2 separate regions of the Homo sapiens genome follow, and region 2 is linked to region 1. The links come from fine-mapping of genetic effects on gene expression. Tissue or cell type: whole blood. Region 1 holds a variant in brackets; the other region holds the start of a gene. All regions are shown on one strand. Distances are between the middles of the regions.

Evidence for each region. PIP is the estimated chance that this variant, and not a neighbour inherited with it, causes the effect.
Region 2: CRTAP starts here. The variant in region 1 is fine-mapped to the expression of CRTAP in whole blood (TOPMed, PIP 0.92).

The regions. Positions count from the first base shown.
Region 1 is chr3:33,146,281-33,149,036 of GRCh38, reverse strand. CRTAP (cartilage associated protein) reads right to left here. Exons shown (of 7, transcript NM_006371.5): 7 at 1,264-2,756. Among named protein-coding and RNA genes, the nearest start is that of CRTAP, 34 kb to the right of the region's middle. The variant A/C (reference allele first, on the strand shown) is at 1,124.
Region 2 is chr3:33,112,703-33,115,458 of GRCh38, reverse strand. It overlaps CRTAP (cartilage associated protein), which reads right to left and starts at 1,445. Exons shown (of 7, transcript NM_006371.5): 1 at 911-1,445. The coding sequence starts at 1,381. RefSeq lists an enhancer at 1-734 and silencers at 686-875, 1,316-1,615.

The DNA.
Region 1 (2,756 bases):
AACCAGACCTTGTCTCACCCTGCCATCTCTTGTTGGCATGTCCCAGTGGCAACTGGAAATCAGAGGGTGAAGAAGCCCAGGCAATGGAACCATAGAGGTCAGGCTTCTGGGACACCGGGCATGTTGGAGGGGCATGTTGGAAGAGATACGGAAGGGCAGCTAGCAAATCCAGCTCAGACGCCATCAGCACCAATCCCATCTGCCTTATGTCCATTTTTACATCCATGACCACCACAGATCCATGCCTCCCAAGCCTTCCAATGTTGTGGACATTGTTGATGCCCCTCCCAGGTCCCCTTTGCTAGGTAGGTGAACCTGTCTTCCAGCTGCCCTGAGTGTTGGCTGTTAAAATGCTCATAAGCACGTAAGTGTACCCTTCCAACGCAGAGAATTGCCCTTGGCCTATTGAGAGTTCCCTCACCCAGGAAGTTAGACCACGGTATACTCTGCTAGGGCAGCCTATAACCAATGACCAGCTGTCATGGGAATGCAAAAGGCTGGCCTCCTTTCCTCAAGGTGGGACCAACTCCGATATGATTCATGCTCCAGAGCTCCCATGAGATCAAGCTGAAGTCAGTCTCCAACTGAAGACACATCCTTACTGGCTCCTTCCTGCTTCTCTCACACCCCTTCTCTTGAGAGCACCCCATCACTTCCCTTGCTTCAAAGGATCCTGACCTAAGACATCCATCAACACTCAACTCTTACTCCCTACACCTCCTCTCCTCAGTCCAGATTTTTTCACCATAACCTCTGGAATTCTTGGGCTGACCTCCATGTCCTCCACCTCTTCTTCAGACAGCTGTTTCAACTCTCCATAACGTGGACTTCTTTTTGTGCTGGCTGGTTCCTCACTCTTTCCACCTGCTTCCTTCTACTCTTCTTTCTCCTGCCTGCCCTTTAGTGGCATGCATGGAGCATAGTTGCTGTTGACAGTCATGCCTGAAGATGCTTTGTGTCCCTGTTTGAAACAGATTCCAAATGTTTTTCCTAGTGGGATTCCAGATCTCCTCTGAAAGACAATCTTCCGGGGGAGAGGCATGAGCCTCTACTGCCTGACAGGACCTCAGCCAGCTCTTGGCTCATGGAGAGCAAGGACCACTCCTCTTGCATGAGATCCAGG[A/C]GTCCCTGGCTTGAAGTTTCTACTTTGTTAGATGAATGTCAGAAATTTCACAGACCTGAGAAAACAGAGCTCATTACAACATAGCTTCTAGAATGTGGTGAAGACATCCCTGTCCAGTGGATAGAATAGAAAATAGAGAATAAGCAATGTAAAACATTTAATGTGATTTAAAAAGAAAAACAAAAACCTTTTGTTTTCAACTATTTTCTAATTTTCAACAAGAGTGAGCTTGTACATACCACACTAACCCAAAGAGGGGAGGCAGAAAAAGACATCAGCAACGGTCTTTGGAGTTTGGCCTACTGGCTGCCACCCTAAAGTGGGAGATAAAACTCTGGAATCTATCTTGTATCTGTTGGCCAAATTGCTTAATTCCTTCCTATTCTCTTCTTGTAAAATGAGGCACTAATATCTTACCGGCCAGCTCCAAGGGGATATAGAGCCAACTCACTCATTCATTCAACAAGCAACGAAAGCCAGCTATTTGTGTGGGGACAGTGTCAGGTGCAAGGATATGTGGCTGTTCACGAGCCGGCCCTAGACGGAAAACACTCTAAGGATAACAATAGCTGCTCTTGATTCTTATTTCTGGGGTAGCAGTGGGTCAGTCAAGGCAAAGCCGGGCTGTCATGGTGTCCTCTTTCAGGGAGATGTCATGGGCACAGGCATGGGGATCAGTCTTGCCCCTGGGGGCAGGCACAGGAAGTCCAATGCATAAAACCTTTGGCTGAGGCTTACTTAAGGTTCCTTTCCTTTTTTTCTTTCCTCCCTTGTACATAGTTTAAACTCTCCACACTAGGTCATTCAGGCCTGGAGTCACCAGAAAAAAAGAAGTCACTGTTTGGGGGATGGCAGATGATCAAGAGTTCAGACAGCTGCGATGAAGGATTAGTTGTGGGTTTTTCTCAGTGCCTTGCTACAAACTGTGTTGCAGTTCCATGTTCTGACACTATTAAATAATGTTTTCTCTGGCACCAATCCACCTTTTCCCTACAGTTTAAGTATTGATTTTTTTTTTTTTAACTGAAGTAGCTTCAGTTTACGGCTCACATTTAAAACCTAGAAACGTTATTTCCATAAATGTTGGCAGAAACTGGTCACTGTTTATTTCACCAGCAGTCATAATAAACCCCTTCCAACTGACAATCTAACAAATCATTTTCTGTTTGTCACTAAGGTGGGTTCAATAAAATTTTTGTGCTCTTAAAATTCCCCTAATAAGAACTCCTGAAAGCACACATTTCCTTCCTAAGGCAGCCCTTGTGGTCAGTGCTCGCAGTGGCTCTCTTTCTGAATTCCAGAGGTGAGCACAACAGGTTAGTTGTAGTAATTAGAAAGTCTCGAAAATCAGGAAGGTATTAGTATGTTGCATATGTCGGTATGTGCTCATTTCAGTCAGTCAGTCACTTTTAAATACATGGGTGTACACAAACCTCCCCTCAGCCCTTCGCTTCTCCACAAGTCAAGTGTGAACAGTAGCAGTGGCCACAAGGAGTATCTTTAGACCCTTCCCAGCGGGTGCCTCCTGTTTGGATGCCCTGAGTGGCAATGGGGCTGGACAGATGCCCCACCACGATGGGCGGCCTCCCCACCAGCCTGCAGAACCAAACAGCAACCACTGAGCTCCATGCTG
Region 2 (2,756 bases), 34 kb after region 1:
CTATTTTTAGCCAGCAATCACAGAGAGAACTTAAGCAGCCATTAAAAGGAGGCAGTGAACTGTGTTAAATTCTAGATGAAAGAGAGAAACAGCGGAGAGGGCCAATCCTGATGACTCACGGTGCACGAGTTCCCCTTTAAGCAGGGATGTGTCCTTGCAAGGAGTCCCTGCCCTTCCCTGGCCTCAATTTCATCCTCTTTAAAAGGAACTAGTCAGCTGGGTGCAATGGCTCACGACTGTAATCCCAGAACTCTGGGAGGCGAGGTGGGAGGATCACTTGAGTCCGGGAGTTCGAGATCAGCCTGGGCAACGTGGCGAAACTCTGTCTCTACAGAAAATACCAAAAAATTAGCTAGGTGTGGTGGCGCGCGCCTATAATCCCAGCTACTCAGGAGGCTGAGGTGGAGGATCACCTGAGCCTGAGGAGGTCAAGGCTGCAGTGAGCCATGATAGCGCCTCTGCACTCCAGCCTGGGCGACTGTGAGACCCTGTCTCAACAAAAAATAAAAATAAAAGGTACTTGTCGGCTCCTCAGGTCTTCTGCTTTATTATCGCAAGTCACCGCTCACTTGAGAAAAAAGGCGACTTTAATGGTATATACAGAAAAGAGGCGTCTGCCCTCAAATAACAGAGAACATTTATCAGGCACTTTGTTGGGTGCCTGGCGCTGTACTGCGTTCTGTGTACGTATTCTCTACCTTAGAGTTACCCTTCAAGAAAGGCATTTTCATCTCTAGTTGAGATGAAGAAGGAGACAGGACTTGGAGGAGACCTTTGGCAGGGCTGGATGGGAGGGAGCCAGGTCTAGAACTGGAGGGGCAACGCGGCCCCGGGCGCAGGGGCGGGGCTAGGGCCTGGAGGCTGGGTCAGGGGCGGGGCCGGGGCCTGGGACGGGGCGAGGCGGACTTGCCTTGAAGTAAGCGAACTGCAGGAACTTGTAGGGCTCGCGGCGCTGGAAGTCCGCCAGCACCTCGCGGCTGGGCTGGGACTGGCGGAAGGCTGGCAGGCCCTGCTTGCAGCGCTTGAGGCAGTGCGCGCGGCGCAGCAGGCCCCCGAAGAGGCGCAGCTCGGGATAGCTGGCGAGGCCGGCGGCGGGCTCGGGCTGCGGCGCGGCGCTGCAGTTGCGGTGGCAGAAGGCCTCGCTGTCGCGCAGCAAGCGGTGCAGCCGCAGGCTGATCTCCAGGTAGCCCACGCTCTCGGCCCAGTGCTCGCCGCTGTACTTGTCCAGCGCGTGCCGGTAGGCCGACTCGAGCGGCATCAGCTCGTCCCGTGGGAAGCTGCGGAAGCTGTAGCGTTCGTATTGGGCGCGCCCGGCGCGCAGCGCGCAGGCCACGCACAGCAGCGCTAGCAGCGCCGCGGCCCCCCGGCGCCCCGGCTCCATCGCGCCCGGCGAAAGGAAGGAAGGAAGGGACGAAGGAAGGGAAAAGGGGAGGGAGAAGGAAAGGAAAGAGGACGGTGCGACGCGGCGGGCCCAGTGCTTTCGGGGCGGGGACGCCAGCCTCCGGCCCGCCCCGTCCGGCCGCCCCTCCCCACCCAGCCGGGGGATCTGGGCGCCAGCTGCCAGCACCTAGAGGGTGCCCGGGAAAGGCGCGCTGCGCACTGGTTCACGCAGGCTGATGCGCATGATGGGACTCTGCCGCTCATTCACTTGGAGACCCGCCTGCAAGGCCGACGCGGCCCTAATAGATTATATACATCGGCCCTACGGTCTATATAATCTACGATCTTTATATTCGTTTGGAGGTTTGTGAAAACGAAGATTCCTGGGCTGTGCCCCCAGAGTTTCTGATTCAGAAAGTCTGGGGTGGAGGTCTGACGATTTGTGTGTTTAACCAGCACCCTGATGAGGCTAATGCTGCGGGCCCAAGGGCCGCACTTTTAATAGCACTGCCCAACCTTAAATTTTAGTGAGAGAAAAAGACAGTGCAAAAATAAAATTAATAAGGATGTCAGCACTTTGTAAACTGTATAGCTAGTCAGGTTGAAGATGTGCACACCTTATGAATCTGCAACACCATTCGGTGGAATATGCTGGAGAAGCTTGCGCGTGTGCATCAAAAAATATGGATGGAATGTTAATGGCAGCACTTTTAAAAAATCTTTAAACTTTTAAATCTTGAAATAATTTACAAGAAAGCTGCAAAAACAGTACAAAAAGTTCCTATATACCCTTCATCAAGATTCACAAGTTGCTAACGTTATACCACATTTCTATCTTTACATTTTTTTCTGACTCATTTGAGATAGGTTGCATGTATCAGGCCCACTGTCCGTTAGTCTTTTTTTTTTCTTTTTTTTTTTCCTTTTTTTTTTTTTGAGACGGAGTCTCGCCCTGTCACCCAGGCTGGAGTGCAGTGGCGCGATCTCGGCTCACTGCAACCTCCGCCTCCCGGGTTCAAGCAATTCTCCCTGCCTTAGCCTCCCGAGTAGCTGGGATCATAGGCACACACCACCATACCTGGCTAATTTTTCTATTTTTTACTAGAGATGAGGTTTTGCCATGTTGGCCAGGCTGTTCTTGAACTCCTGACCTTAGGTGATCTACCTGCCTCTGCCTCCCAAAGTGCTGGGATTACAGGCGTGAGCCACCGTGCCCAACCCCTTAGTCTTTCAGTATGTATGTCCTAAGAATGAAACTACCAGACAATCAAATTTAGGAAATTTAATACTGATAGAAGACTTTAATCATGTTCCATTTCCGGTTATGTCAGCTGTTCCAATTATGTCTTTCATGGCACTTTTTTCTCTTAGGATGC